Regions from separate parts of the Homo sapiens genome. Here regions 1 and 2 are each linked to region 3. Evidence: fine-mapped expression QTL. A gene starts in region 3. Each other region holds a variant in brackets. All regions are shown on one strand. Distances are between the middles of the regions. Region 1 overlaps APBB2 (amyloid beta precursor protein binding family B member 2). Region 2 overlaps APBB2 (amyloid beta precursor protein binding family B member 2). Region 3 holds the start of NSUN7 (NOP2/Sun RNA methyltransferase family member 7).

The links. PIP is the estimated chance that this variant, and not a neighbour inherited with it, causes the effect.
Region 1: its variant is the best candidate, but not a certain one, in a credible set for the expression of NSUN7 in whole blood (TOPMed, PIP 0.66).
Region 2: its variant is the best candidate, but not a certain one, in a credible set for the expression of NSUN7 in aorta (GTEx, PIP 0.70).

The regions. Positions count from the first base shown.
Region 1 is chr4:40,812,791-40,823,347 of GRCh38, reverse strand. It overlaps APBB2 (amyloid beta precursor protein binding family B member 2), which reads left to right. Exons shown (of 18, transcript NM_004307.2): 17 at 1,298-1,477; 18 at 7,089-10,557. The coding sequence ends at 7,256. Among named protein-coding and RNA genes, the nearest start is that of NSUN7, 68 kb to the right of the region's middle. The variant A/G (reference allele first, on the strand shown) is at 5,015.
Region 2 is chr4:40,869,828-40,880,384 of GRCh38, reverse strand. The region is part of intron 12 of APBB2 (amyloid beta precursor protein binding family B member 2); the gene reads left to right. Among named protein-coding and RNA genes, the nearest start is that of NSUN7, 130 kb to the right of the region's middle. The variant C/T (reference allele first, on the strand shown) is at 5,862.
Region 3 is chr4:40,745,611-40,756,167 of GRCh38, reverse strand. NSUN7 (NOP2/Sun RNA methyltransferase family member 7) reads right to left here and starts at 6,213. Exons shown (of 12, transcript NM_024677.6): 1 at 5,868-6,213; 2 at 5,177-5,565. The coding sequence starts at 5,474.

The DNA of each region.
Region 1 (10,557 bases), 67 kb before region 3:
GGGCGCCAGTATTGCCTGGGCTGTGTGATCTGGGGATGAAAAGCAGAAGATGCTTCCATTTGGGAGAGTCCTGTGACTATCAGTAGCAGAAGGAGCTATTGGTTGTCTTGAGAAGAGGCCACATTAGCCTCAGCCCAAATTATCTCAGTTTCGTGGTTGAAGAAATTGAAGCACAGAGAGGCTAAGTCATTTGCCCAGCATCACACAGTTGGAAGCAATGGAATCAGGACTTAAATCCAGGCAACCTGGCCCAGACTTGTGCCCACTTTTCTATTCTGCCTCTGTGAAGCACCTGCCAGGGAAAGACCACCAGTCATCAGCCTGCCCCACAGCTGCCCGGTTCACCCTGGAGAGAGGAGCAGGGTGCTCACTGCCTGCCTCCAGCTGGCCACACTGAGCTCTCCTCACCTCTTCAAGTAGGTCCCGCCCTTCCCCACACCAGCATCATCGCAAGCACTGCACCCTCCATGCTCCACCCTCTGCCTACCCGACCCTTACCCAGATCACCACCACAGCCTCCTTCCTCCTGAGAAAACTTCCCGACCTCTCACACTAGTGTACTTTGCTCATTAAACACTCCCAAGGCACTAGAGTGAATATTTAATTAGTCAAGATGTTAATGATCCAAAAGTCAACATTTTGGATGTGTTTATTAATTCAAAACTTGCATATGGTTCTTGCAAAGGATGTGGTGTTCATCCCTATGAGAAAGAATTCTGAACATTTCTTTACGCTGCCTCATGTGGATCCCAGATGGACACCAGTTTGCAAGAGAGAAAAGAAAAAAACAATTTGACAACTTTTTGTTGATTTGGCAGCTTTTTGTTTTATATGGTTTTAGATGGAAATGTGATTCAGTGTGCTGTTTAGTTTGGGTAAGAATCACTGGACGAAGAAAGATACCGTGAATCCCTTTTTTCTGGTGCTCTGGGGGTTTACTTGGCCAAATGGGTTTTGGGCCACCAGGTGTCCTGTATTTGGGCTAGATGTAAGAAGTATGGACGGCACTGTCCCTCCCCACAGTGAACTCACAGCCACGTAGCATAATGGAGAATGGGACCCACATCACACCCCATGACAGCAGTGTAGTTCAGAGCAAGAATGACCTCCAGAACAGGGTAGCCATGCAGTGATGGCCTCTTCAGACATTTGGGCAAGGTTCCGCCTTTCGAGAAAAACACAGGTCCTTTCTGAATTCGGCCTGGCTATACTTTCTGAATGCCAGTTCCTATGTGCTGCCACTCTTAAGCTTGATCCTGGGATCTCCTGATTGGATGCCGCATAATGTCTCTTGCAGAATGAAGAGGAAGTCTTAGTGGAATGTCGTGTGCGATTCCTGTCCTTCATGGGTGTTGGGAAGGACGTCCACACATTTGCCTTCATCATGGACACGGGGAACCAGCGCTTTGAGTGCCACGTTTTCTGGTGCGAGCCTAATGCTGGTAACGTGTCTGAGGCGGTGCAGGCCGCCTGCATGGTGAGTTATCCCGGTACAGGCTGTTGAGCCCTCCCGCCTCTGCTCATCTCTAATATGCCATACATTATAGCAGAATCACTCACGGAAATGAAAAAAGTCGAATCCCTAAAGTAATGCTTTACTTTATAACGCCGTCATTCCTAGGGCCAGAATCAGTTATGATAAACAGATTACATCTCCAAAGGCCAGAACTCCTGAAAGAAGTGGGGCCAGATAGAGGCTCCGATGAGTTTCATAACCACCACCTTGACGACGGTCAATCCTTGATCCCAAATCAATTTCATGTGTGAAATGTTGGTCGTGTATGAGTTGGTACTGTTTGGGTTCAATTCAGTACTTTAAAAATCAATACATTGAATGACTTTTGTTTCCAGTGATTGGTTTCTGTACACCGTTCTTATATATTTTATTTATATCTGTTAACTCAGTCCTTCCGACAACTCTGTTAGGTAGTTGTTAGTTCTGTTTTATTTATGAGAAAATAGAGACTTTAGGGAAGTTAGAGAATGGGCCTCAGGGCTTGTCGGTAAGTGACAGAGCCGAGCCTGGATTCAGCCCCAAGCTGCCAGGTGACAAAGTCAGAGCTCTTTATACCACATGGATACTTGGAAACAAACAAGAATCCCTCATTATTCCTTCAGCATGTGTCTTTGTGCCCCTCTTATGCCAGACACTGCAAAAGTTCTAATAAAAATGAGGGAACTGGGCCGGGGGTGGTGGCTTACGCCTGTAATCCCAACACTCTGGGAGGCTGAGGCAGGCGGATCACTTGAGGTCAGAAGTTCAAGACCAGCCTGACCAAATGGAGAAGCCCTGTCTCTACTAAAAATACAAAATTAGCCAGCGTGGTGGCGCATCCCTGTAATCCCAGCTACTCGGGAGGCTGAGGCAGGAGAATCACTTGAACCTGAGAGGCAGAGGTTGCAGTGAACCGAGATCGCGTCATTGCACTCCAGCCTGGGCAACAAGAGGGAAACCCATCTCAAAAAAAAATGAGGGAGCTATATGAGTGTGGGCACCAAAGCCTGTGGGCAGGTGTGTTCCAGCAGCAGCAGGTTGGGTGCTGGGCCCGAGTGGAAGGAGGTGCGGTCCAGATCATGGCGGGCTTATGATGATGGCGTGTGGGGGCCTGATTTTCTTCAGCAAGGATTGCTAAACTGGGGATTGAATTGATTGTATTTAGATTATTTATTTATTTATTTATTGAGATGAAGTTTTGCTTTTGTTGCCCAGGCTGGAGTGCAATGGCGCGATCTCAGCTCACTGCAACCTTCGCCTCCTGGGTTTAAGTGATTCTCTTGCCTCAGCCTCCCAAATAGCTGGGATTACAGGCACCTGCCACCACGCCTGGCTAATTTTTTATATTTTTAGTAGAGATGGGGCTTCATCATGTTGGCCAGGCTGGTCTCAAACTCCTGACCTCAGGTAATCCACCCGCCTCAGCCTCCCAAGTGCTGGGATTACCGGCATGAGCCACCGCACCCAGCCTGTATTTAGATTTTAGACGAGTATCCAGCAAAAAAAGAAGACAACCAAGTAGAGGATAGGTTGGAGGAACAAGGCTGAGGTGGCGATCAGCCAGGAGCCCAGTTACCTTCTGCAGATGGGAGAGAGGAGGAGCGTCCACGCTAGGAGAGCAGCGTTGGGAACAAACAGGAGCAGAGGCTTTGAGAAGCACCGAGCTGCCTGGCTGGGGGAGAACTGCTGCATGTGAAGCCCCTGGGCTTCATTTAATTCAGCCTCGCACTTACGGGCTGGAATCTGGGGCATTCAGCATGACTGAGATACAGTCCTTGCATTGTAGAGCTCAGGTATAGTGGGGGAGACACAGAAACCTAAACTCTGTTACAGTGTAGAAAGTGCTGTAAATAAAAGTATGAGGATCTTCACTTTCAGCCGGGCGTGGTGGCACATGCCTGTAGTCCCAGCTTCTGAGGAGGCTAAGGTGGGAGGATGGCTCAAACCCAGGAGGTCGAGGTGCAGTGAGCTACGATGGCACCACTGTAGTCCAGCCTGGGTGACAGAGCGAGACCCTGTCTCAAAAAAATAAATAAGAAAAATAAGTATGAGACTGTGCTGGATTGAGAAGTAACTGGGAAGAAAAAGAAGTGGAGGCCCTAAAAGCAGATAACTTACAAAGTTTGCCAGTGAGGGGGAGCTTGAAGGGCAGCATTGGAGGGTTTGTTCATGTGTTTATTTCAGGACAGGAGAGGCCTGCCCCTTTTTTATTCTTTATTTTTATTTTATTTTATTTTTTTTAAGAGATGGGATCTTGCTATATTCCCCAGGTTGGTCTTGAACTCCTCCCTGGAACGGCAGGGGAGCACCACCATGCCCAGCTAGGTTTTCTTTTGTGGAAAATGGAGGTAGATAAAGAGTGGAGGAGGCTGGGCACAGTAGCTCACGCCTGTAATCCCAATACTTTGGGAGGCTGAGGCGGGCGGATCACTTGAGGTCAGGAGGTTGAGACCAGCCTGGCCAACATGGTGAAACCCATCTCTACCAAAAAATACAAAAATTAGCCGAGCGTGGTGGCATGTACCTGTAGTCCCAGCTACTCAGGGAGGCTGAGGTGGGAGGATGGCTTGAACTTGGGGGTGGAGGTTGCAGTGAGCTGAGATTGCACCACTGCACTTCAGCCTGTGTGAAAGAGTGAGACCCTGTCTCAAAAAAAAAAAAAAGAAAAAAAAAAAAGAGAGCCAAGGGGAGGGACTTAGCCTACGAATTAGTTAGAGAGACCTTTTACTTTGACATAGTCCAGAAGATGCTAAGAACCAAGAATGGGTGGAGCTTGGGGAAGGAAAGGGAGTTCTCTGACCGCCGCCCCCCCACCCCATACAGCACATTGTGAGGTTATGAATGAAGGGAAAGTTTGCACCTGTAGTCCCAGCTACTCAGGAGGCTGAGATGAGAGGACCCCTTGAGCCCAGGAGTTCAAGTCCAGCCTGGGCAACATAGAAAGGCCCTATGTCTAATAAAAATGTTAAAAGGATGAGGTGGGAGAGCAGATTGCAAAGGTGGGGCGTAGAAAAGAGGCATTTGACCTTTATCATTTGAAATAGAGCAGGAAGGAGGGAGAAGGGGAGGCCTGGCGTTGAACACTTGTTATCTGGTGTCACACTTACACCATCCTCTGTGAGAGTGGCTAACTCCCTGCAAGAACTGTAGGGCCAGGATTCTAACTCAGACACCCTGAATATGCAGGAGCAGGGCTGGGGTTCAGGGGAGCAGGGACAGTAGAGGAGTCAGGTGAACCCACTGACCAGGTACAGGGAGTTGATGAGATAAAGGAGATCTGTGAAGAAAATAGAAAATGGGAGATTTCAGCCAAGCGAAAATGGATGACAACTATTTTGGTATTTTATGAAATTGAAACAGATCATAGCAGATGGTTTTAGTCATAAAATGAATGGCTTTCCGACTTAATTATACGTTTAAGTGATAACGACAATGAGTTTTATCTCTTTGGCTACAGTTGGTTTTCTGATTCTCAATTCATTTTCCCTCTTGGAAACAACTTTTACTCATTTGCTTCCT[A/G]TTTTAATTGTATCACTGCAACGAGTGGACACAGCTCAGCCAATCTAGTATAAGGCATACTAGTAAAATCAAACCATTCTTCTCTCCTGCCCGCTCTGAATCCAGTGTTTCTAGCTCAGGGGCTTTCTTCTTAGTTCAAATCCGCATGATTCTCCTCTGAATGGTCCGTATGTGAATTTATACCATGTGAATATCTATTGACACTAACGTTCTTTTGAATCTGCTTAATTTTTAGGCATATTTTACAGCTGTGTGGTATAGGCCCAACAGAAGACATTTTGGCAAAATTTAGAATAGAACAGAGAGGGACCCTTTATGAATTCCAACACTTAGGTGTGGTTTTGATTCACACTGGATGTACGTGACTACTATTTGAAATTCCAAGTCCAGAGTCCCATGTTGCCATGTATAAATCCGTGCTTTCGATGTGTGTGGTTTGGGTTGTGATGTGGGCCTAGTAAAATACCTTACACAGAGGAGACGTGTAATCAATCATCATATTTCATATGATTGATTTGAAAGGGGTTGTTTTGTGGCCTAAGGGGTATGATAGAACACTGTACCATATCCTTCCCCCAGGGTCTTGCTTTTTACAGGGACATCAGCCTATTCCATTACTAAAGAGCCTGTTAATATTTAAGTTGATTTTTTTTAAAAAAGCCATGGAGTGACAGTCCTTCCTTGGTATACGTGGGGCGGGGTGGAGGTGTTCTAGGACCTCTGAGTATACCAAAATCCTACATATTCAGGTCCTGCAGAACCCACGCATAGGAGAAGTCTGCCCTCTGAGTAATTGGGTTTTGCATACCAGGAATACTATTTTCAATCTGTGTTTGGTTGAAAAAAAATCCTCATATAAGTGGACCTGCACAGTTCAAACTCTGTTGTTCAAAGATCAGCTGTATTTTTTTTTCATTATTTATTTTGAGACAGGGTTCACTCCGTCGCCCAGGCTGGAGTGCAGTGGCCATGCTCACAGCTCACTGCAGCCTTGACCTCCCAGTCTGAAGCAATCCTCCCGCCTCAGCCTCCCAAGTAGCTGGAACCACAGGCATGTGCCACCACACCTGGCTAATTTTTGTATTTTTTGTAGAGACACGGTTTCACCATGTTGCCCAGGCCGGTTTCAAACTCCTGGGCTCAAGTGATCCGCCTCCCTCAGCCTCCCAAAGTGCTAGGATTACAGGAGTGAAACACCATGACTGGCCAGGTCAACTGTATTTTAAAACGTTTGGATTAGAAAAAAAAAAATTTGATAAATTTTAACTTTTTATCTAATCTTAAAGAATTAGTTATCTTCCCATTATGCAAAACCAGGTGGACTACATTGTTATATTTCTGAAGAACAGGAATTATCCCTGGTGCCAGTGCTAATGGATTTTTAAAAATTAATCCATAAAGATTTAGACTTGTATGTACCATGTATCTTGAAATCTTAATACCTCATCTTTTTAATTAAAACAGGAAATAGGGAAGGAAACAAACATTTCTGAATGCCTTCTGTGTTGCTAGGCCTATTTCAGGCATTCCACAAGCATTACAAGTATTACTTACTTAATCATAACACCCTCTGTAAATAGTCCTTTCTTCAGCCATTTTACAGTTGAAGAAACTGAGGCTCAGAGAGATTTAATAATTCGTCTGGGGTTCACAAGTGATAGACCTTAAACTATGCCCTTTCTACTGTGCTGTCAGTGTACCATGAGCACCTGCCTAGATTTGCATGTCTCTGATGAAAAATGTAATTAACACACTCTCTCCCAATCCTTTCTGGTTTCATTAGCTCATTGACTGTGAGGTGTATTCGTTGCGGACTATCAATATAGAGGACACGTGGAGGGTGGAAATGGATGGAAGGAAAGGGTGGCAAAAGCCAAAACCCCTTTGTTGAGCCTAATCTTTTAGGAGAATTTAAAGCACTCACATTCAGAGAAAAATAACTCTTGGATTTATGTTTAGGAACTAGGTCGTTAACCTTTGGGAGTCAATGTATTATGGGTCATGACTTAAAGTCATATTAAAGATGAAATAATATGTTGTTAATTACCTTAAAACACGTTTTGTTTTATTTCAGTTACGATATCAGAAGTGCTTGGTAGCCAGGCCGCCTTCTCAGAAAGTTCGACCACCTCCACCGCCAGCAGATTCAGTAACCAGAAGAGTCACAACCAATGTAAAACGAGGGGTCTTATCCCTCATTGACACTTTGAAACAGAAACGCCCTGTCACCGAAATGCCATAGCTGCACATGCAAAAGGACTCGGCTATTTACCTGAAGATTGACTAGCTACACTAAAGAAAATGAACTCCGCCATCCGACCTTCCATCCAGTTGCTGATGCTTTGTCTTCAGAGAATTTACCCTTAACCAAGCAGTGTTAGACAAGCATGTTCTCTCGTCTTGCCACCATCATGTGATATGAAAAGAAGCATGAATAATTTTTTTTGCTGTAAGTTACATCATGCGCAGTGGAAGGTCTTTTTCTTATTGTAAATATTGTGAACATTACTTAACTTCACACACACACAGAGAAGAGTGTGGCCCCACCCCTCCTAGTGAACTAACGCTGCGTCCTTGGAATGAATGATGCGTGAGTTAGTTTCACTGTCTTCTTGGCTGGACCTGTCACAAGCAACCTTTAAGTCCTACAGCACTTTGCCCTGTTTTCAACATTGGAGTAGGCACTGCATAGCAGATACCATTGAATTGCTGTAAAAATAGGATGGCGAGTTTGTGTTTTAATTTTTCATAAAATTGAACCTGTTGGTTGACAAAATTGGCTGTTGGCATCAGTATAGAAACCAACTGGCAGCTTTCCCTGACAAGCTCTTTGACACATGGACACCATTTCATGTCTACAGCTGTTTGTGGGATGTTGGAAAAAAATGAAACTTCAAAATTGATGAAAAACTAAATTCGAGGAATTAAAATCGAACAAAACATAGCCTTTCTTTTCCGATGGTTTTCAAACTGATTATTTTTAAAAGAGATTAATAAAATCATAATGCATTTTGGGTGGGACATATTTCAAACTTCTGCCTTATATTGTACGGTGCAGCTAGAGAATTATAGTTCACTATGGCCATTCTCTACATAAACATTAAGATGAAATACTCCTCATCAGCCTTTCATCCTTAGTTTGAGAATTAGCTGATATGCAATTTGAAGTTGAGGAAATATCATTGATATTTCTATCATGCACGATTATTTTAGATTTCTACCACCGTGTGATTTTTGCTAGTCCATGTGCTAGAGGTAAACGTTCTGCTGGAATTCTGCATCCAGCTCTATCCCCCTCTGATGCTTTTTGCCCAGAAAGCTGTCTGTCCATCATGTATTGTCCATGGCAACAAATTACATTAGGTTGAACCTTTCCTTGATTTTATGTATTTAATATTAGAATTTGTTGGACTCAACTAGATATATTTTTTAATTTATATTTTTTCCATTTTACTTTGAAGATTTGAAATGTTCATACCTGAGCAAAGTCTACACAGGAGTAATGGACTGTTTAACAAGTTTCCCAAAACAGCATTTTCCTGCTCCTTCGTATGTAGGTGAGAAACTTAGCTGGAAAGACATACAAATTTAGACTCTCGTTGACATTGTCGTTTTAAAAGGAAGTTGCTAAGGCGATCAATCTCAATATTAGTCTTGTTTACTTCTTCTTAATGTCAAAATTAACATTTACAACATCCAATTATAAAAGTAATGCTTTATGTTTATACACTGCTATGTACTTGTCAAAATGGTTTCCACATTCTTATCACATCTGAGCCTTACCAGGTAGAGAAGGTACTAAATACACTTTAGAAGTAAAAATATGAAGTACCGAGAGGCTAAACCCACTGGCCTAAGATCTCACCAAAGTTCATGAAAACCAGGACTAGGACCCACGGCTCCCAAAGCCCGTTCTTGCTGTGTTGTGCTGCCTCCATATCCGTCAGGAAGAGCCTTTCCAGAATGATTCTGGGCATATACTAAGAAGAGCAGGTATGGAAAGATCTATTGTCAGGGAATCTTAGAATTCCCTACACGAGTGGGAGAAAGATGTCCAAATTCCTTACGCAGTGGTATTCATGATGGTGCCCTATCTAAGTCCAGGACTGTTTTCCTACAGCGTGCCTCAAAAGTGTTGTAGAGGGCAGGATTCTACATTCACAGCCTGTTCCATCTACGAGATTTTCCAGATGCTACTTGTGGTAGACATTCCTAACTCATGGTACTTAGCCACCAGAGATCATGATGGAATGAGTGGGTGGCTTTTCTACCTGCCATTCCCTCAGAATTCATGAGGGGTGGGGGACAGGGGGACCGGAATTGTCTTAGCACCCCAATGTTATGACAAAACTATGCTACTTTAGAAACGCAGTCTGTTTTTCACCAATTGACATACTACTGATCTGAAGTAACCAGTGCCATCATAAGAAATTACTGCATTAAGAAAATCCTTGCTGTGCCCTTTGAAAAGCTGTTCAGAAATCATTTACAGTGATCTTTCATCTCGGTCGCTGTAGTGAAACATTTTAGTGTGATAAATTTCAAAATTCTAAACAAATTACCCACTTTTATATTGGAAATCTCTACCAGAACTCCCTCTTCATTTTTTAAGGCATACATTTGCTTGTTTTCAAGATCAAGAATTCTGAGCTAGCTTTAAGTAGCAAACTGATTTATATGTGCAATTATAGGATGCATTAAGATGAATGATAGCCTTTACATATTGAAAACTTTGCAGACGTTTTGTTTTGAAAATGGCATTGTATAGTAAATGCAAATTAATTTTGTAAAATTATGTTAAAGAGTATGTTCAGACACTTTCTGCCATGGCCAAAAAGTATGTATGAAAGTATGTGTGTATTTGTTTGTAAAAGGATGCCAATGTTTTACCTGATATCTTAGTGACACTTCAGTTATCTATGCATTCTTTAGATCTGTGATTCGGTAAACAGGCAGCCATGTTCACGATGCCTTCTATGTCTTACCATATTTTTAATTAACCTGTTAAATACAGCTTAAAATATTTTTATTTTATTTATTCTATTTTTACTGAAATATACTGCATTATTGTGTTAATGTATTATCTTTCCTGGATATTATCTCCCAGTGTATCCAGATCTAAGTAATCTCAGTGAACTATACATTGCCTAAAAAGTGGTTTTGTAATGATTTGTAGTCACATTTCTATTGGGATATGTAGAAGAAAAGGCAAAATGCTTAAAGTTCCTTTTATTTTTTAAAAGCAGCTAGATAGACACAGACTTGCCACCTCATACATCTGCTCCTTGGCAACATCAAGGGGAACGACTAGCCAACATGCCTATGGCTAAAAACTTTCCTTTGCAGACTAAAGCACTGCTTGGTGCTTCGTTTTTCTACCCTTCACAACATGTGTGATTTCATCTAAGAGATATATACATGTACACATGCCCTTTGTTTCCACCTGGATACAAGATCACTCATAGCTAATTAGGACCATTGTTTTTTGTTCATCTGTCTTGTTGCATGAAGGGACATTAGACCCATTTCCATTAAAATAAGTT
Region 2 (10,557 bases), 120 kb before region 3:
TACTCAAATGTCATCATCCTGAGATTTTTGGTTTCCTGGGGAGTCCAGTGACTATGAATTTAGTGCAGCACAGTTCGTCACTGGGAAAGAAGAATTTGAGAACATCAGGTGGAACTCAAGGAGTCTCATTGTGTCGAGTTTTTGAGAGCTAGAGTAGGTCAAGAGAAGGAACACTGGAGTAGGAATCTCACCATTTGCAATGTAATTGTGCCTCTTCCTTTGCACTGATGTTAGGGGCGCTCTGTGTGCCACTGTCTCCATCCGCACTGGAGATCATCACTGACGTAGCTGAAATATGGAGGTCCTTTCATGCAAGGGTCATAAGTGCCATCGCTCCCAGTGACACTCTTTTTATTAACATAGTAATATTTCCTTGAAATATTGTCCTGGGTCTGCTGGGTGCAGTGGCTCATGCCTGTAATCCCAGCACTTTGAGAGGCTGAGGCGGGCAGATCACCTGAGGTTAGGAGTTCGAGACCAGCCTGTCCAACATGGCAAAACCCTGTCTCTACTAAAAATACAAAAATCAGCTGGGTGTGTTAGCACATGCCTGTAATCCCACCTACTCGGGAGGCTTAGGCAGGAGAATCACTTGAACCCAGGAGGCAGAGGTTGCAGTGAGCCGAGATTGTGCCATTGCACTCCAGCCTGGGCTACAGAGTGAGACTCCATCTCAAAAAAAAAAAAAGAAAGAAAAAAAATATTGTCCTGGGTCAACCGTAACATATTATTAAAAATAAGGAGAAATTTAACATGAGAGCTTAGTATTATTCTGTCTTTTTAATATCTAGAAATTATCTCTAGTTCATAGTGAGTCTCAACTAACGAGTTGGTGACTCTTCATAGAGTTCCCTAGAGCTATTTGATGCTGCCCTTCAAAGGCTAAAATTGTTGTTCAGAGCCCCCCAAAATGGCTTTGTATTTTTCTAACCCTCTTATGAAGTCAGAATTGGTGTTTAAGTATCAGAGCTGTGAACTCAAGCTTTGGAATGGCTTGTGTTCAGAGGAGTTATATTTTAACAGAGAAAAATGAGAATGTAGGAGAATTATCGTGTCATGAATTTTCAGCTAGCCTTGAGCCTTTGGGTGGACTGAAAAAGTCTTGTTCACTTGGGAGCCAAGAGTTCCTGCTTCTGTGAGTCCATGTGAGGCTGCACCAGTTTCCTTCCAGGTCCCACGTTCTAGTCTCCTCCTGCACACTGCTCTCTCTTAAGATAAGAAGACAGTAGAGTTATGTTCCCTGCAGTCCCTCGGAGCAGCACCCACACTTTGGGCTCAGGCACTGGGTCTCATGTTTCTTTGTTATAACTTCAACTGGGAATTCTGTTCTTCTAGGCTATTCCCCAAAAAGTGGCCTAGGGATGTGCTTGTTTGAAAAGGGAAGACAGGAAAGGAAATCAAAGACAAGAATTAGGAAATTGAACCCAGAGTCCTCAAGCAAGAACCCAATTTCCAAGAGTAAAAAGCTCTTGGGAACAGAATCATGCAGGCGCGGTCATGGCAGCCAGAGGACGGAAATGCCAGATCAGACGTGGGGCCAAAGAAAAAGAAGGGAGCCAGAGAGTTGACTTAAAATGGAAAGAATAAACCTCTCCAAACCCTGGAAGAATCATCAAGGCTATAAATAAAGGAACACAGAGTGGGTGACAGACGGGCTCTGACACCATTCACTCATCTAGAAGAGTGTGATGGGGGAGGGGAGACTAAGAAAAATAAAACCCAGAAAATGTTCTCATTCAGTCAGAAATTTTATACCAGAAATACTCCAAAGAGGAAGAAACATTTGAAAGTCCTGAGGCGGGAGAGGATGAGTTAGGGGGCACAGTTACAGTCTCTGAGGGAGATCCGGACAGGGGGCATGGCAGGGACACAGTGGATGAAGATGGATGCTGACATGGCAAACAGGCAGGTAACGTGATGGGGAGGACAAAGCCAAGCAGACACAGGTGCCTTTCTCTCTGCGGGCAGTGCATTAGATAAGCTTCTGATTGCTTCTCTTTTATTTTGTTTTTTTTGTTTTGTTTTGGTTTGGTTTGGTATTTTTGGAATGGAGTCTCACTCTGTCGTCCAGGGTGGAGTGCAGTGGCAAGATGTCAACTCACCTCAGCCTCCCGGGTTCAAGTGATTCTCATGCCTCAGCCTCCTGAGTAGCTGGAATTACAGACATGTGCCACCACACCCGTCTAATTTTTGTATTTTTAGTAGAGATGGGGTTTTGCCATGTTGGCCAAGCTGGTGTTGAACTCCTGGCCTCAAGTGATCCGCCTTCCTCAGCCTCCCAAAGTGCTGGGATTACAGGCGTGAGCCACCGAGTCCGGCCTGATTGCTTCTCTAATGCTCAGCCACCCACCCTGTCTTGCCAAGTCTGCCCCTTTAGGAAAATGCTCCAGCTGCATTTTCAAGGGCTGCTTTTTCTCTGCACCAAGCACCCTGCCCACTGGAGAGCCATCTTCAGGCAGGGCTCACGAGCCCCATGCCCTGTACCCTGAGCTGCTCTGCCCGGGGTGTGGCAGGTCATGATAGAGTTAAGAGTCACTTTGCCACTGGACAATAGTTCATGACACGTGGCTCCTACCTCCCTGATCCCTAAATCCTTCTTGCCTCCTCCCTAAAGGAGAGCTCCTGAGTGAATTTGTTGGAAGCAACACTAGAAAACTGCAAGTCTCAATCTTCAACTCACAGAATCAAATGTTCCTGTGAGGTCCTAAAACCAGGTCTGTCCCAGCAGGTGAACTAAACAGGGCACAGCAGGATGAGTTTGCAGGAATTTTATATATAGCACCGATTAAGGCATTAATGCCATTTTTCAAAGAGTTGACCCTTCTTTGATTACCAAATCTGTGAAATAGAGATTTAGTTCAGATTGAAAGTATCTGATCCCCTCTGACCCTGGCCCTCAGCACCCCACCCCTACATGACCTGCCTTTATACAGACCTGGAATGAGGATGGGAACAAGGATGAGAGGGCACACGTCATCCCCTAAGTCCATAAACAGCATCTGAGCTCCAAAGAATTGAGTTGTCTTTTGAGAGAAGTCTCTTTCCTAACCACGTGCCACGAGGGTGTAAATAGTGGGTATGGCCCAACCTTGGCTAACCTAGGCTAGGCCACCTTTGCTCTCAGATGGGTAACAGCTTTCTGCTGGGATGCCAAGGCAAATCTGTTATACTCCACGTTGGCCAAGACAGACTCCTGACCCCATTTTCAAAGCTGTTCTTTCTATTTATTCTCCCGTGTTCTGCATTCATACATTCACTCATTTCGGCATGTGTTCATCCACTGGACTTATGCTGAGCCACTGTGGTTAATGGCTCTGCCATGTAGTACACAGGTCAGCAGTGTGGGAGCCCCCGACCCTGCTCCTGTGGGTCCTCCCCACCCATAGTGGTGGTCAGCCCTAAAGAGTCTACCTCCTTAATACCTAGGTCAGAGTTAAAAACAGGCTGTCATATTGACAGTGGGTAATGATTCAAATATCCATCAGCAGGTAAATAGATAAACAGACCATGGTATATTGTATAACAGATATCCACACAGCAGTGAAAAGGAACCAGCTGTTGATACAGTCGGCCCTCTATATCTGCAGATTTTTTACATCGACACATTCAACCAACTGCAGATGGGAAATATTTGGAAAAAAATACAACAATGAAAAATAATACAAGTTTTTAAAAATAATATAACAATTATCTACATAGTTTTGCATTGTATTAGGTATTATAAGTAATCTAGAGATTAAAGTATACAGGAAGATGTGCATAGGTTATATGCAAATACTGTCCCATTTTATATAAGAGGCTTGAGCATCGTTGGGGGTCCTGGAACTAATTCCCTGCAGACACCAAGCGACAACGGTATATACAGCAACGTGCTGAATCTCACAATAATTGTGCTGAGTGAAAGAAGCCAGACCAGAAAAAAAGGTAGTGTGTGATTGCATTTATGTAAAATTCTATAAATGCAAGGTAAACTAATTTGTAGTGACAGAAGGCAGTTCAGTGATTACCTGGGAAAGGACAGAAGGCAGGGATTATAACGAGGCAGGAAGAATCTTTGAGAGTTACAGATATACTCATTATGTTGATGGTGGTAATAGTTTCACAGGTACATATTGTCAAAACTTATCAAATTGGATATTTTAAATATATGCAGTTTATTGTGTATCAATTATACTCAATAAGGTTGCTTAAAATAAAAGTTTTAAAATATGCAGTGAGTGCATGCCAAAGATTTATTTAACTCATGAGCTGGCTACCAACACCAGTTCAAAGGAACCTAAGAAAGGCTGAGAATCTTCTAAACCTGATAACCAAGCCACCAGGAAGCACTTGTGCTTTCAAGAATTTGAAAAGGTTTCAAAAAACCTCAAGCCAGGAAGAATCACACACATACACAAACACACATGTACTGCTGCCTAGACACAGCCTAATAAAACAGTTGAAACCAAAGGCATAACACAGATCATAACAGCAGCTAGAGGAAAAGAGAAAATACTAGAATAGATGACTAAGGTGGATACAAAACTGGTTAATGTTCTACTGGCAATGAAATCCTCACCTTTGGGGTTATTTTTTTTTTTCTTAGCAGAAAGTTGCAAACATTACTTGTAACATATTAATGTTCTACAAATTAACAACTACTCTCCCAGAGTCTGAGCCCTAATCACTAGCAAAGTCAGATAAAAATACATTTCCCTAGAGCTGGGCTGTTCATTTCGGTGATGGCCTTGAGCACTTGAAATGTAGCTGGTCTGAATTGAAATGTGCTGTAAAGTGTAAAATACATGCCAGAATTCACAAACATTGTATTAAAAAGATGTAAAATGTCTCATAACAATTTCATATTGATTACACATTGAAATGATAGTATTTTGGACATATTAGCTTAAATAAAATATTGAAATTAATTTCACTTCCATTTTCCAGTTGTTTAATGTGGCTACTAGAAAATTGTAAATTACTTAATGTGGCTTGCATTGTATTTCTGTTGAACGGGACTCCCCTAGTGAAGTAAGTAATCCTTAGGAGGGTCCATTAAGTGTTGCTCTACTGTGACATTGAAAGACACACTGTCCTCCTTTTGTCTTATTTCCAAGTGTTGGTTAATTTTTCTTAACTACTTCTTATACCTGTTTGTCCACCCCTGATCTTTAACTCCCATCTCTGTCTGTGTCCTTGACAATCAGCAACCCAAGTGATTTTTCTGATGGGTAAAAAGACATGACATGTTCCCTGCTGCTCAGGATGGAGCCAAACCCCACGATGTGACATGTCAGGTCTCACCCCTGCCTGCCCCCATCCCAGGCAGCACAGCTGAGCCAGGCACTTACCCAGCTGCACCGGACTGTGCCTTCACACACTTAACTACCAAAAATGTCACACAACAGCTCTGACTTGCACTGTGTGCCCTGCTTTTTGATTTTTTTTCTTTACTACTCTTTTAACTTTTAAAACGCTGTTTGTGACCACTGATTGGTCATAGTTTGAATAATACTGATCTCAGTCAAATTTTCTAAGAAGTTTTTGAGCTGAGCACTCTACCAGCTTAGTAACTGGTGTTTAAAGAAAAAGAGATTCCACACTCACATAATTTTGGGAAACACTGTATGCAATGTTCTATTCTCAGAGAAAGCCCCTAAAACACACCCTCAGCTGTTGAAGGGTCTGAGCTGTCCCGCAGTCAACACTAGATGAGCAGAAGACATATTATTGGCTTCATTAACGGCGAACCTTCAGAGGGCCAGCAGTTCTGGGACCCACCAGGTCAGAAAACACTGTTCTAGGGATTCTGAATGATAACATTGTATCAGGGGACAGGATAACAAAGCTAGAGTTTCAGACTTTCATTTACTTATCTCCAC[C/T]CCCCGCCCTGCCCCCGCCTCCTGTGCCTTCTCTGAAAAGTGTTGTGTTCTTACGAACAGCACTTCCATTGCATTCAGTCAATACAGTTGTAAGTGATGATCCCAGGAAGGAAATCTCTACTTCTTTGGTAATATCATCCCTGAAGACGTCCTTTATATTGTTAAATTGCCCTTGGATAAAAAACTGAAATGCAGATTTCTTTTAGATTTCAGTATCTAGAAAATATTGTCTCTCAAAGGATATGCATGTAAGAATTTAGTTAACAGGGAAAATAGTATAGTTTATCATGTTTCCCTTTTTGCTAGGAAGTTTCAAGTTAAATTAAACCTGCAATTGCAGTAATTAAATCAGATAGAATCATATAACATTGCTGTTTTTGTGGATCAGAAATGGTTGAATGTGGTTCCAACTAATATTTCGCCTCGTTAATTTATAGAATTACTTTCTCTTCCTTATATTTGGCTTTAAATTTTACTTTTCTAAATTTAGAACATAATAGACTGTGTGTGCCTTTTATTGTAAGCCACTTAATTCTTTTGGGAAGGAAATAGGATATAAATTTTGATAAATAAACAGAGTTCAATTGTAATGCCCCATTAACCAATGAGTGTATAAAATACAGATTTTTTCTCTGACTTCTCTATTATTCAATAATTGGGAAATGCTATGCATTCTAAAACAGGAGTATTTTGCGGGTTTTTTCCCCCTGTAAAATCCCTAAGCAACTAAAAGAACACAAAGTTAAAAATCTATCCCTACAGCCAATTAATATTTATTGACCTATCCAAATGACACCCGTGGCCTTCCCCATTAATCAGAGAATAATAGTGCACAGAACCACCTCAGCCCTAAAGATACTTGCTTGCCAAACCAGTTTCCTCCACCACCAGCGATCTCATTGCGAAGAGTAGCAGCAATTCCTAAAAGCATTTTAGCTAGTGGACGGTGTGAAATTTCTTAATATATTTCCCCCACAAACTCAGTGGTCTAGCATAATTGTCTCAGCTCCTTCTTGCCTAAAGGAAATGTTCTGATTCATCTCTGTACAGCGTTGAGCTTAAGAGTTGCTTTGTCTTCTTCATTGACGTAAGAGAAGCTGTAGAAGTTATTTATTAAGAAAGATAAAACCTGATACTATTAATTAAATTCACTAAGTCAAGGATTGAAAATTAAGAGGGAAAATTTTTTTTAAATAAAAGATAAGGTTTAAATATGTCTACACTGTACAAATTAGAGTGCTTCTTAAAAAAGAGAGGAGATATAGATCTTAAGTTGTCAAATCTTGGGTCACTTCTAATCATAACATTGTCAGTCATTCTCTTAGGCCCCAGAACTGGTAGAGCAGATTATACCACAGAAGTATGCTAACCAGGGCAGGAGGATAGAAATGGCTGTCATCATCCATATACGGTACCATCTTTTTTTTTTTTTTTTTGAGATGGAGTCTCACTCTGTCGCCCAGGCTGGAGTACAGTGGCATGATCTCAGCTCACTGCAACCTCCGCCTCCTGTGTTCAAGCAGTTCTCCTGCCTCAGCCTCCCAAGTAGCCGGGATTACAGGCACGCAACACCACGCCCAGCTAATTTTTTTGTATTTGTAGTAGAGATGGGCATTCACCATGTTGGCCAGGCTGGTCTCGAACTCCTGACCTGAGGTGATCCACCCGCCTCAGCCTCCCAAAGTGCTGGGATTACAAGTGTGAACCACTGCACCCGGCGCCATCTTTTTTTTTTTTAACCTTTATCATTATAATTTAACCAGATTTCTTCCTGTGTATCTTACAGTGATCTGTAAAGTTGGCTTTCTTCATGTCCAAGGCCACATCATCCTCATTCCTAACTTGAGATGTCAAGCCGTAGAATTCCTTTTCTCCCTCCTTCTTCCTCTATTGATCCCATCTAGCTTTCTGGGGATTTATTGGATACCCATGTGTTAAGTCCCTAGCATGTGTCTGCCACCATGCTTGGCACCAAGGATGTAGCCATGAATGAGAACGCCATGGTTCTTGCCCTCATGGGATGTGCTAAGAGGAACAGACAGGTAATGACATGGGCTCATGAGTCCCATGAAGCACTTTCTAACATGACCGTCAAGCCCTATGCCAGTGTTATGTGACATCCCTATCCTTAGGACTTAGTGCAGGTCCCACCTGTTCTGTTAGCCTTTCTGTCACCGTTCGTGTCCTTCAGCACAGGCTAGGTTAGACTGTAATAACAACCAAAAATCTCAGTGGCTTATAACAATTCTTTCTGCTAAAAGTCCATGGTGGGTTGGCTGAAGACACGGCTTCCTTTGTCATTGTCCTCATTCTCTGTCTAAAGCTGATGATAAAGTCACAATCTAGACTACAATATTGGCAACAATGGTGGCAGAAGGAAAAGATGCGCTGACTGAACATTTCTGCTGGAAATGATGCTTAGCGCTTTTGCTCACATTTCATTGGCAAAGCAAGATGCGTAACTGCGCCTCACTTCAAGGGTTGGGGAAATATACGCCACCCCTACAAATGGGAGTGAATCTTCACAGCACACCATGCCCTGTGCTGTCTTTCAGCTCTGTAGTCATGCATATATTCATTGTACTAGATCTCTTCAACCTCGGGTTGTCACTAATGTCACAGATGTGTGTCTCCCTGGTTAGACTGTGAATTCCTTGACAGCCATCACCATATCTTAGATTTCCTTGTGTGTGCTTCAACATGATGTTATCCTTATATTAGATGCTTAAAAGTACTTTTGATTATCTGAAGGGGAGAATGAGGGGAGAATAATCAGAACTCTGTGCATGTTTTGACACAATGCTTTATGGTTTACTGAGGGTCTATCTCCATTAGTCCTTTCAGGACTACAGGGTGTAGCATTATGTCCCTTTTACAGATGAGGAAACTGAGACCTAGAACTTTTACACGACTTAATCAGTTTTATACAAAAATGTGGCTGAACCGTGTCTGAAACCATGAATTCTAAATTAATGGGTCAGTGTTCCTACTCCTTTTAGCTGTTAATATGGACACTCCAATTACCTTGTGCAGAGGCCCACATGAGGGAAGGAAGAGGAAACTTCAGAAAAGGAGTTGAGGCCGGGTGCGGTGGCTCATGCCTGTAATCCCAGCACTTTGGGAGGCCAAGGCGGGCGGATCACTTGAGGCCAGGAGTTCGAGACCAGCCTGGCCAACGTGGCAAAACCCCGTCTCTACTAAGAATACAAAAACTAACTGGGGATGATGGCTCTTGCCTGTAGTCCCAGCTACTCAGGAGTCTGAGGCGGGAGGATCGCCACTTGAACCCAGGAGGTGGAGGTTGCAGTGAGCCAAGACTGCAACATTGCCCTCTAGCCTGGGCAACAGAGTGAGACTCTGTCTCAAAAAAAATAAACGGGTGCGGGGTAGTAGGGTCTTCACAGATGTGATTAAGTTAAGGATTTTGACCTGAGGATATTATCCTGGATTACCTGAGTGGGACCTAAATCCAGTCATAAGTGTCCTTCTGAGAGACACTTACACATATATATATATGTATGGCTGGGCGCGGTGGTGGCTCACCCCTGTAATCCCGGCACTTTGGGAGGCCAAGGCGGGTAGATCCCCAGAGGTGGGGAGTTCATCTCTGCTAAATATACAAAATTAGCTGGGTGTGGTGTCATGCACCTGTTATCCCAGCTACTCGGGAGGCTGAGGCAGGAGAATCGCTTGAACCTGGGAGGCGGAGTTTGCAGTGAGCCGGGATCGTGCCACTGCACTCCAGCATGGGTGAGAGTGAGACTTGGTCTCCAAAAAAAAAAAAAAAAAGAGTGTGTATACACACACACACACATATATGTATATAATACCTATAAGGTAACATTTGCAGGTTCCAGGGATTAGGACCTGATTTCTTTGGGATATTTTTCAGCCTTCTACAGTTAGGGCAGTGGAAGCCCCTTCTGCTACCCAGCTTTGCTCCTCCATCTTCCTCACCCAGCTGTCTCTCCTCTAGGTGGTACAGATTATATGACTTCTTAAATGAAAGGGCTTTTGGAGTGAGGCACACCGGTTGGCTTCCTGATCTGCCTCTGTTAGCTGGCTGACCCTGAGCCAGTTACACACTGTGCCCCAGGGCCCTCTTGTGTAGAGATGGAAGCTTTGGAACCCCGATGCAGCTTGGTTGTAAGATATTAAATGGGAGAGGGCTTGGCACGGGTCCCTGTCCCCTGGTGAGCACTCAGAAGAGAATGTTGTCCCTCCCTCTGCGCTGCCCCTCACTCTGCCCTCCCTCATCTGCACTGGCAGTGGTGGGCACAGTGGGCTGGAGGCAGAGGAGGCTGCTTGTTGAGATTCCTGGAGCATTTCCTCCCATTTATTTTTCTTAGTGAAGTCAAAAACAGACAAATGTTTATTAAATAATGAATCATTCTTTCCTAGAAGGATTATTTCATTTCATGGGTGAGCGGTTTATTGCCAGAGAATGATGTCTTCCCCCAAAATGATGTATAACGTGATTTGGTACCTAAGTTTTTAGACACTTGAATGTTTTTTCTCTCTTCCATTTAAACTTGAAGGTTGTGAAATGTAGTCCATATTCATTCATACTCTGTTCATTTCAGGAGATACCCACAAGCAGAATGGGGTGACTGGGGCCTGCTTTGACCTCATATTTTCCTATTTCTACAGGAATATATAGAATATTTACTAAATACTAGGTATTTAGTAATAAATA
Region 3 (10,557 bases):
GTTGGCCTTTGACTGGTTCCTAGGAGATAACCTCTAAGTTCTTGGAATATCTTGTCTGACAAAGGTACTTTTTTTTTTTCCTGGGGTCCTAGACCACACAGTATCGGCTTGGTCTCTGAAGAAGCTAGAGACTGAATAACTAAGGTCAGCCAGCCACACGACTGCACCTTGTCTACAAAACTGACCCCCCAATAAAAATGCTAAACAAACAGCAAGGCTCAGATGAACTTCCCTAGTTGACAATGCTTCATTCATGTTGTTATTTATCATTGGTGGGAGAATTAAGCGCTCTCCATAGACCACCCTGGGAAAGGAAAATAGGAAGCTTGCGTCTAGTCTCTCCTGGACTCTGCCCTATGTACCTTTACTTGTTGCTGATTTTAATCTGTCCTTTCACTGTAATAAACTATAACCATGAGTATAACAGCTTTGCTGAATTCTGTCAGTCCTTGTAGCAAATTATTGAATCTGGAGGTGGTCTTAGGAACCCCTGACTACAGTTACTAATTCGCAAAAGCTATAACCAAACCATATGTTAAGCATTTACTGTTTCTCACTGACAGATTATATGATTCTGAAATCACCAGGTTAATGCTACAATCAGTTCCTGGGATTCGAAGTTCAGCAACAAAAATATAAACCTAGAGAAGGTGGAGAAAGAAGCCAGGAAAAAGATAAGCAATTTCAGGGATATCTCTTTCTCCAATTTTTTTTTAAATTTGTTGTTTGTTCATTTCTTTAAAAAAAAATTGCCAGGTTTTTATTTAAAAAAAAATTTTAGGCCAGGCACGGTGGCTCACGCCTGTAATCCCAGCATTTTGGGAGGCCGAGGCAGGTGGACCACAAGGTCAGGAGATCAAGACCATCCTGGTAACATGGTGAAACCCCGTCTCTACTAAAAATACAAAAAATTAGCCGGGCGTGATGGCATGTGCCTGTAGTCCTAGCTACTAGGGAGGCTGAGGCAGGAGAATCACTTGAACCTGGGAGAAAGAGGTTGCAGTGAGCCGAGATCGCGCCACTGCACTCCAGTCTGGGCGACAGAGCAAGACTCCATCAATAAATTAATTAATTAATTGGCTACTGGTACTCTACTGCTTTGACAAAACTCTCAATAGGAATAGGCAACTTTTCATTAGTAATTCTACCTTCGTTAGCAGAAAATTGACCTTGGGGTTATTTGGTAAAGCAGAAATAATGGCACTCTTCATTTCAAAAAACATTTTACGGAGCGCTTTAAATCTTTAAAAGGTTAATCAGATAAATATACTTCCTGTCTTGAAAGATCTTATATACAATGAAGGACATCAGCAAAGGAACAAACAATAAAACTGAAAAGCATAAGACACAACCAAAGGAATACAGTTAACATTAGTATAATTAAGAGATTTTCTGTTATTGTTTTTCTTCTCCTACTCCTTAAATATTATGGTAATGTGATTTAATTACCTGTTCACAAATTCACAAACAAAAGGGACCATTACTCAAGCTCTCTTTAATTTTCACAATAACCTTTGCAGTTTTACAGCTCCTATAAAATCTTAGGGAAGAAATTCTGAGTTTTCTTTTCTGAATCATTATTCCTTGAACTTATACTGTATAAGCCAGATGTAAGTTTACAAAATATCACATGTGAAAGTATTGACAGAACACTGATAATACAGAAGATAAAAGTGAAATGCATAAGAGCCTCCAATATTTTAAAAGTAAAATAGCAGATGGCTTGTTGCAGTGGCTCACACCTGTAATCCCAGCAATTTGGGAGGCCAACGTGGGCAGATTATCTGAGGTTAGGAGTTCAAGACCAGCCTGGCCAACATGGTGAAACTCCCATCTCTACTAAAAATACAAAAATTAGCTGGGCATGGTGGCAGGTGCCTGTAATCCCAGCTACTTGGGAGGCCAAGGCAGAGAATTGCTTGAACCTGGGAGGCAGAGGTTGCAGTGAACCGAGATTGCGCGATTGACTGCACTCCAGCGTGGGTGACAGAGCAAGACTCTGTCTCAAAAAAAAAAAAAAAGGAAAATAGCAGGCTCCTAATTATCTTGGAAAATCCACTACATAAAATTCTGATTTTATTCTATTTGCACATTCAAGAATTACTGATAATTTAAAGCAAGACTGTTGTATTAGTCCATTTTTATGCTGCTGATAAAGATATACCCGAGACTGGGGAATTTACAAAAGACAGAGGTTTAATGGACTTACAGTTCCATATGGCTGGGGAGGCCTCACAATCATGGCGGAAGGTGAAAGGCACATCTCACATGGCGGCAGACAAGGGAAGAGAGCTTGTGCAGGGAAACTCCCCCTTATAGAACCATCAGATCTCATGACACTTATTAACTATCATGAGAACAAGTACAAGAAAGACCTGTCCCCATGATTCCATTACCTCCCGCCAGGTCCCTCTCACAATACGTGGGAATTCAAGATGAGATTTGGGTGGGGACACAGCCAAACCATATCAACGTATTATTATAAGAAAAAATATATTTAACAAGTAAACAATACCATCTTACCTTATAATTTGAACTTATAAAAACGAACGTTTCAAGAAAAGAAGTTTCATAAAGGTTTATGACAATTTATTTGAATGGGATTTTCTGTGTCATTAAGAAAGATCACAGCACTTTGGGAGGCCAAGGCAGGTGGATCACGAGGTCAGGAGTTCAAGACCAGCCTGGGCAAGATGGTGAAGCCCCATCTCTACTAAAAATAAAAAATTAGCCAGGCGTGGTGGCAGGTGCCACTTGGGAGCTACTTGGGAGACTGGGGCAGAGAAGTGCTTGAACCTGGGTGGCAGAGGTTGCAGTGAGCCTAGATTGTGCCATTGCACTCCAGCCTGGGTGACAGAGTGAGACTCTGTCTAAAAAAAAAAAAAAAGAAAGATAAAATAATTACAAGATCTTTCATAAAATAGAAAATAGGAGGGAGAGGACAAAAATAATAATCTATCACACATATCACTGTAATACAATCATTTAGTTAATGCATTAATTTTATATAGAATTATAATTCAGGCTTTTCTTATTGAGTACTAAAGGTAATACTCAATATTCCATTAGGAGAACAAATTGCCTAGAATAAAATTCTAGCATTAACATTAAATGCCAATTAATCAACACAGCTGCCCAGTCTGCATTTCACTGTTGCGAGAAAAAAAGTATAAAAATGTTCATTTGATTCATTGCATGAAATACAACACTTTGGTTAGGGGAGAGGGGAAGAAGATGGATGAAATAAAATCTCAGAGATTAAACTGGAGGAAGAATGGTTAAGACGGACTTAAAAGGAAAAGAAAAATTACTGAGGAGAAAACAAAGAAACAAAAAACAAAGAGACTCTCTGCAGACAACCAAAAATATATATTCCTGTCTAAATAATCAGTGAGACATTTTAATTCAACTGAGCATTTTTTTTTAATTTTAAAAAATAGAGATGGGGGGCCAGGTGCAGTGGCTCACGCCTGTAATCCCAGCACTTTGGGAGGCTGAGGTGGGTGGATCACAAAGTCAGGAGATGGAGACCATCCTGGCTAACACCGTGAAACCCCGTCTCTACTAAAAATACAAAAAATTAGCCAGGCATGGTGGCGTGCGCCTGTAGTCCCAGCTACTCAGGAGGCTGAGGCAGGAGAATGGCGTGAACCCAGGAGGCGGAGCTTGCAGTGAGCCAAGATTGTGCCACTGCACTTCAGCCTGGGCGACAGAGTGAGACTCCATCTCAAAAAAATAGAAAATAAAACTAAAAATAGAGATGGGGTCTTGCTATATTGTCCAGGTTTGTCTTGAACTCCTGAAGTCAAGCAATCGTCCCACCTCCACCTCCAAAAGTACTGGGATTACAAGTGTAAGCCACCGCATCTGGCTGAACTGAGTAATTAACTGCCTCCTACGAGCAAGGATGTACAAGGCTCATTAAGTACTAAGAAAATCATGCAAAAGAGTGTTGCCCTTTTTGAGGTGTCTCTTTAGGAAGGCTTCTGCTCATCATTTTGGCCATGCTGCTAATATTCTAAACATTTCTGGAACTTCTTTTTGGAACTACATTCAATCAGTTTACAAACCAACATAAAGTTTTTAGTCACAGCTAGTACGAAAACAAACAACTTCAAGCCTTTTGACTGCTCTCCTCATAGTAGCAATATTTGGTCATTTCCTAGTGTCAATTCCACAGGGTCTTGCTCTGTCACCAGGTTAGAGTGCAATGACACCATCTTGGCTCACTGCAACCTCTGCCTCCCAGGCTCAAGCGATCCTCCCGCCTCAATCTCCCAAGTATCTGGGACTAAAGACATGTGCCACCATACTGGGCTAATTTTTAAATTTTTTTTTGTAGAGAGGAGATCTCACTATATGCCCAGGCTGGTCTTTAACGCCTGAGCTCAATCAATCCTCCCACCTTGGCTTCGAAAAGTGCTGGGATTACAGGCCTGAGCAACCACCCTTGGCCTCAGATTGATAACTAACCATCCTTGAGTCTCAAACCCTGAAAGCAAATTAGAAAGGGAAGTTCTACTAAAGTTTGGCTCCTCCCATTAAAGCTAGTGGCTATGAATGGGATAGTCTTAATTGGGGTTGGTGTAATTTTGATATTCATTTTTTAAATTTTGCACCTTTTCTTTTTATTCCGTCTCTGTTCCTCTCCCCATCCTCCCTCACTGGTTTTATATTTGTGAAAGCTCATAAACTAAAATACCAAAAAAGGTAAACACAGGGAATGGAAAGAAATACACAGGGAGGCCAGGCGTGGTGGCTCACTGCCTGTAATCCCAGCACTTTGGGAAGCTGAAGAGGGAGGATTCCTTGAGGTCCAGAGTTTGAGACCAGCCCAGACAATAAAGCGAGACCCCTAAGTCTACGAGGGAAAAAAAAATACAGGGAGAGGGAAATGATCATTGGAATAAATTGTTTCCTTGTTGAATGTAATGACCGCGCACTACACCGATCTAAGGACAAACACAGTGCACGGGGAAATCTGCAATCCTGGGCTGGAAGAGCTAGTTTCATGGGAACCCTAATTCCTTGACACTTGCAATTAACCAAAGATATGCACATGCCTAAAACCAAAACCTGGTGTGAATGAGGGGAAGGGAGGAGGAGGGCTGCATTCCCCAAATTCTCTCGCTATTATTTTCTTTTAGTGTTGATCTTCCAGACTGGCACAACTCACATTTCAGGGCACTGAAAGCCAGCTCATAAGACAAACGCTGAAAGGACTGATCCTCAGACTCGGACAAGGACCGCAGGGGTTCATTCCCATACTTGATTAAGACTTTCTGTGCCGACTTTTCGATTCGAATACCCTGAAAAATGTTGGCTGCCATGACATAAACGGAGTCCGGATAGCCCGTTTTTTCGGGCACACCAGCTGAGCTTTTCCCACCGGACAGAGGCAGGGAAGTGAGTTGGGAGATGATCTCGGGATCTTCTTCGTTCGAAAACTCCAGTTCGCCCGTGGAATTCAGCATGTCTGCCCCTCGCCTGTCGTGAGTCCTTCACCCTGGGGTTAGAATTCCGATGTTCCAGGAAACGGCTTTCCTCGCATCTGCAGCATGGTCTCTGTGAAGAGAGAAGGTGATTGCAGTAAATCACTCTTTCTGCAGCACCCCTGTGGGTGGCCCCCTTCGTTGTGGCCTTAAAGACTAAGAGGGAGCATTTCCCGTCCCATCTGAGTGTCCCAGACTTCGAGCCTGGGACGCTCAAAAAAAAAAAAAAAAGCGAGGAGGGGTGCAGCGGCGGAGGGAGAAGAGCCCCAAGGAGACCGACGGCTTCCCTCAAGCCAGTCTGGGGGCAGAGCTGCCCCCGGAGCCCCGTCCGCGTCCCCACAGCCCAGTCACCGGCTCCCCCGACTCCTCCCTTACCCCGAGGGCGGATGGTTCCCGGGGCTTCGGGGACGAAGACGCGGAGGGCGGCGTCGGTCACAGGCCCTTGGGAGCCCCGGGACTGCGGGGCGACGGCTGCTGCCCGCGAAGGCCGTTTGGTTCAAATGCAGCCACTCCCACCGGCAGGATTCGGGGCAGGGGGGTCGCAGCCTCTGGCGCCCGGTTCGCTCCGGTGTCGTGAAGTGGTGGGCGCCTCGGGGCCTCGCCTGGCCTCGCGCGTGAGGCCTTCGCGGACGTGGCGGCGAAGAGGGGTGAGCGCGGTGCCCGGGGTCTGGCTGGCTCAGGCCGAGGAAAGCTCAGCCTCCCGAGTCTCCGGCAGTCGACTGCTCCCGGACCGGGTCTTCATGGCAACCGCGAGCGGAGGTGGGGCAGGGGGCGCGGCGCGAGGGCCGTTCCCGCGGGATTTGGCGGGTGCTACCTGTTGCCGGGAGAGTCGCTCTTCCCCCAGCGCGCGGAGACACCTGTTTCAGCCCCTCCGAGCCAGAGGCCTCTTGCACAGTTCCTGGACCTCACCGGGCCTGAGTGCGTGCCCTTGGCTTTGTTTATAAACATTTGGGGATATTTTTGAGGTAGTCTGACGTAGTTCCGTGGTTTTAACTCACAAGTTCCTGAAGTCCCTGTTAAAACTACACATTCTTTAAAATATTTTTAAAATATAGTAATAATTTTTTTTTTGAGACATGGTCTCGCTCTGTCGCCCAGGCTGGAGTGCAGTGGCGCAATCTCGGTTCACTGCAGCCTCCTCCTCCCGGGTTCACGTGATTCTCATGCCTCAGCCTCCCGAGTAGCTGGGACTACAGGCGCCCGCCACCACACCCTGCTAATTTTTGTATTTTTAGTAGAGACAGGGTTTCACCGTGTTGATCAAGTTAGTCTCGAACTCCTGACGTCAAGTGATCTGCCGGCCTTGGCCTCCCAACGTGCTGGGATTACATGCGTGAGCCACTGCGCCGTCTGTAATAATTTTTTTTAATAACAGAGACAGGGTTCCCATTATGTTGCCCAGGGTGGTCTCGAATTCCTGGGCTCAAGGAGTCCTCCCTCCTCGGCCTCCCAAAGTGCTGGGATTTCAGGCGTGAACCACCGCCTCCAGCTAAAAAAAAATCCTTGGAACCCATCCTAGAGATTTGAGTTGCTAAGACCCAGTAATTTGCATTTTTATCAGGTAACTGGCGATTCTGATGCAATCAGCCCAAAGACCACAGTTTGAAAAACTCTGGTATAGTTGAAAGACAACTGGTCCTAATTCCACCTCTGCCTTTCCTCCTTAGGGATTTGCCCTTCCTTCTTTAGGCTAAGGCCATTTCCATTTCCAGCCAGTGGTTAGTAGGATGAAGGGGAAAGAGAGGGCAGCCCATATTTTTCAATGACCTGAAAGGTGCACATATCACTTTGGCTCACATTTTATTGGTCAGAACTCAGTCATATACCCAGCAACCAAGAGGCTGGTAAATGTGTCCAGCTAAAAATAAGGGAACTATTACTGTAGAAGAAGGAGAGAATGGATAATGGGGAAAAAATTAGCAGTACAGAACTCTAACCCTGACCCCTTCTCTCAGAAATCCACCCACTTTCATTATCCCCGGAATACGTTAAACATTCCGTAACATTTTATGTATACATGCATTCATTCGTTCGTTTAACAAGTATATATTAAATTCTTGCTGTGTCCCTGGCATTGTGTTCAGCCCTACAAGTAAAATAATGAATGTATAGAAATGATCAGACACCTGACCGGGCGCGGTGGCTCACGCCTGTAACCCCAGCACTTTGGGAGGTCGAGGCGGGCGGATCACGAGGTCAGGAGATCGAGACCATCCTGGCTAACACGGTGAAACCCCGTCTCTACTAAAAATACAAAAAAATTAGCCGGGCGTGGTGGCGGGCGCCTGTAGTCCCAGCTACTCAGGAGGCTGAGGCCAGAGAATGGCATGAACCCGAGAGGCGGAGGTTGCAGTGAGCCGAAATTGGGCCACTGCACTGCAGCCTGGGTGACAGAGCCAGACTCCGTCTCAAAAAAAAAAGAAATGATCAAAGACCTTGCCCTCAAGAAATTAAAGATGGATATATTTGTATTTTGTCACCTTTTCATTTTTGTTATAAAGATTCGTGTACATACCTGCATTACCCCCCTTCTGCCATCTTTCTATCCACACAACACACACACTCTAAAATAGTCTTGTTTTATCTTTATCTTTTCATTTTTATTATATATCTTTTTTATTCCCAGATGCTAGCAAAATATCACTCTCTTTCACATACAGACATTCACAGAAGATTACAAATATGGAAGGTGTCTTAGAGGTCATGATATATTTTATCATGCATCACCCAGTACACAGTGATGTGAGGCAATAGCTAGCTATAAACTTTGAAATATTGTCATTCAAAATATAATTTGAAGAGTTTATTTTCTTTAATAATAGTTCAATGTAAGTAACAGTTTACTATATTGAAAACAAGGTTTAACGAGTCTCTATCCCCAAGGTAGAGCTTAGGCAAAGAGTTGTGGGGTTAGCAAATTCATGGTTACTATTTACTTTAATCATGTATATAATCCTGCCTCCTTACTTCTCACTCCTGGTTTATAGCCTCATTGTGGACTTAATGTATTTGAGGGGAGGGTCAGAGGAGAGCATATTAAATTTCAGTGAACACTGTAAAAAAGTAACCATAGAGACAGGCATATGAGTTCAATTGTTGTGAAAGCAGGATAGTAAAAAAAAAAAATGTAGTTTTTGTTTAAGTTACACTCTGTAATATGACCAGAGCATTAAATCAGACATGAGGAGAAAATCAAAATGTACCTGAGGCTTTCTGCCAAAGGAAATTAATGATTTTTCTTTCCCCAGGGGGTAGAATATTTAAGATATTTGTAAATTAACATTCTTGCATTTGACTCAGAGTACTAGTATATGTTAGGCATGTGAATATTCAAAATACATCTGCTCACTTGCATCAATTTGATCTAGACAATATAAAACGGTGCCCAGTTCCAATGAAGCCTGTTACAGAAATATAAAAAGCATAAGAAACATAAAGAATCTTAACTTGTGTTCTTAAACACCAGGACTCAACTTCCAGTTATTGCTTCTTAGAAACAGTATGGTAAATTTTCATTGCAACACCTTTTGCAGATTCCTCTGTCACCTAGGCTGGAGTGCAGTGGTGTGATCATAACTCATTGCAGCCTTGAACTCCTGGTAGCTCAAGCAATCCTCCTGCCTCAGCCTCCTGAGTACCTGGGACAACAGGCATGCCACCACACCCAGCTAATTGTTTTTTACTTTTGTAGAGGTGGAGTCTCACCATGTTACCCAGGCTGGTGTCCCCCGAGCTTAAGGAATCCTCCCACCTTGGCCTCCCAAAGTGTTGGGATTATAGGCATGAGCCACCATGCTCAGCCTTTAATTATTTTTGTTTTATAAAGTGTTTTATTGTAGACCTAAGCTATATCCAATTGAAACTCTGGGGACTAGGGCAGGCCATCAGGATTGCCATTTGAGGATCATTTGGGCCTTGTGGGTAAGGTACATTTGGGGGCTGACGGTCAGATGCTGAGTTATTACATCCCCAGAGGATGAAAGGGAATAGATGCTCAAGAAAGCATCACCTGAGGTAGATGAACTTCGTTCTGTGATACTGGGTGAAAGTTGGTATGCAGGAACACTTTACATATGCTAGAGAGTAGCCTACTCAAGTGTCCTCTTAATACTTAGCCAAAAGATTAGCCAAAGAGTCATAACCACTTGCAGAGGAGAAAAAAAATTCTCCCTTAATTTGGATGCAGAAGATTCTAACGAAGCTGATTCCTGAAGGGTGGTGCAAGTGGAGAAGAATGGAACTCCACACCATAGCAGTTCAGAGACAGCACCGTTAGAAAGAACACTCTTGATATTTAGAAGCCAAAAATGACAAGAGCAAATAAGGAGGAGTTTGAGTGACCTAGGATACAAGGGGAAAGAAGATTCAGGGCCGGGCGCGGTGGCTCATGCCTGTAATCCCAGCACTTTGGGAGACTGAAGCGGGCGGATCACCTGAGGTTGGGAGTTTGAGCCCATCCTGACCAACATGGAGAAACCCCGTCTCTACTAAAAATACAAAATTAGCTGGGCATGGTGGTGCATGCCTGTAATCCCAGCTACTCGGGAGGCTGAAGCAGGAGAATTGCTTGAACCTGGGAGGCGGAGGTTGCGGTGAGCCAAGATCGTGCCATTGCACTCCAGCCTGGGCAACAAGAGCGAAACTCCATCTCAAAAAAAAAAAAAAAAAAGATTCAGGAGAGTTGTCATTCCAGGTCTTGATTACAGTAGACAACCATTTGTAACAGATTCTAGCAACACAGTGTTTCCTGGAGTTAGTCACTCAAGCACTGCCTTCATGATTTTTTTTTTTTTTTTGCCATATATACATATACAACCATGTATAGTATTTACTCAATATTTTACTTTAAATCAGATTCACTTTCTTAAATTGAAAACTAAAAATGGAAAGTCAGCATTATTTGCCATAAATGAAAGCAACCACCACAAAAGCAGAACAATACTGTTAAATGCTAGCTAGAAAAGGTTGTGCCATGTCCCCAGGCTTGAGGTTGATGGTTCTTTATTAAAAAGGGAATGGACAGTGTCAGAGAGGTGTTAAACACTCGTACAAAAATGAGACTTTA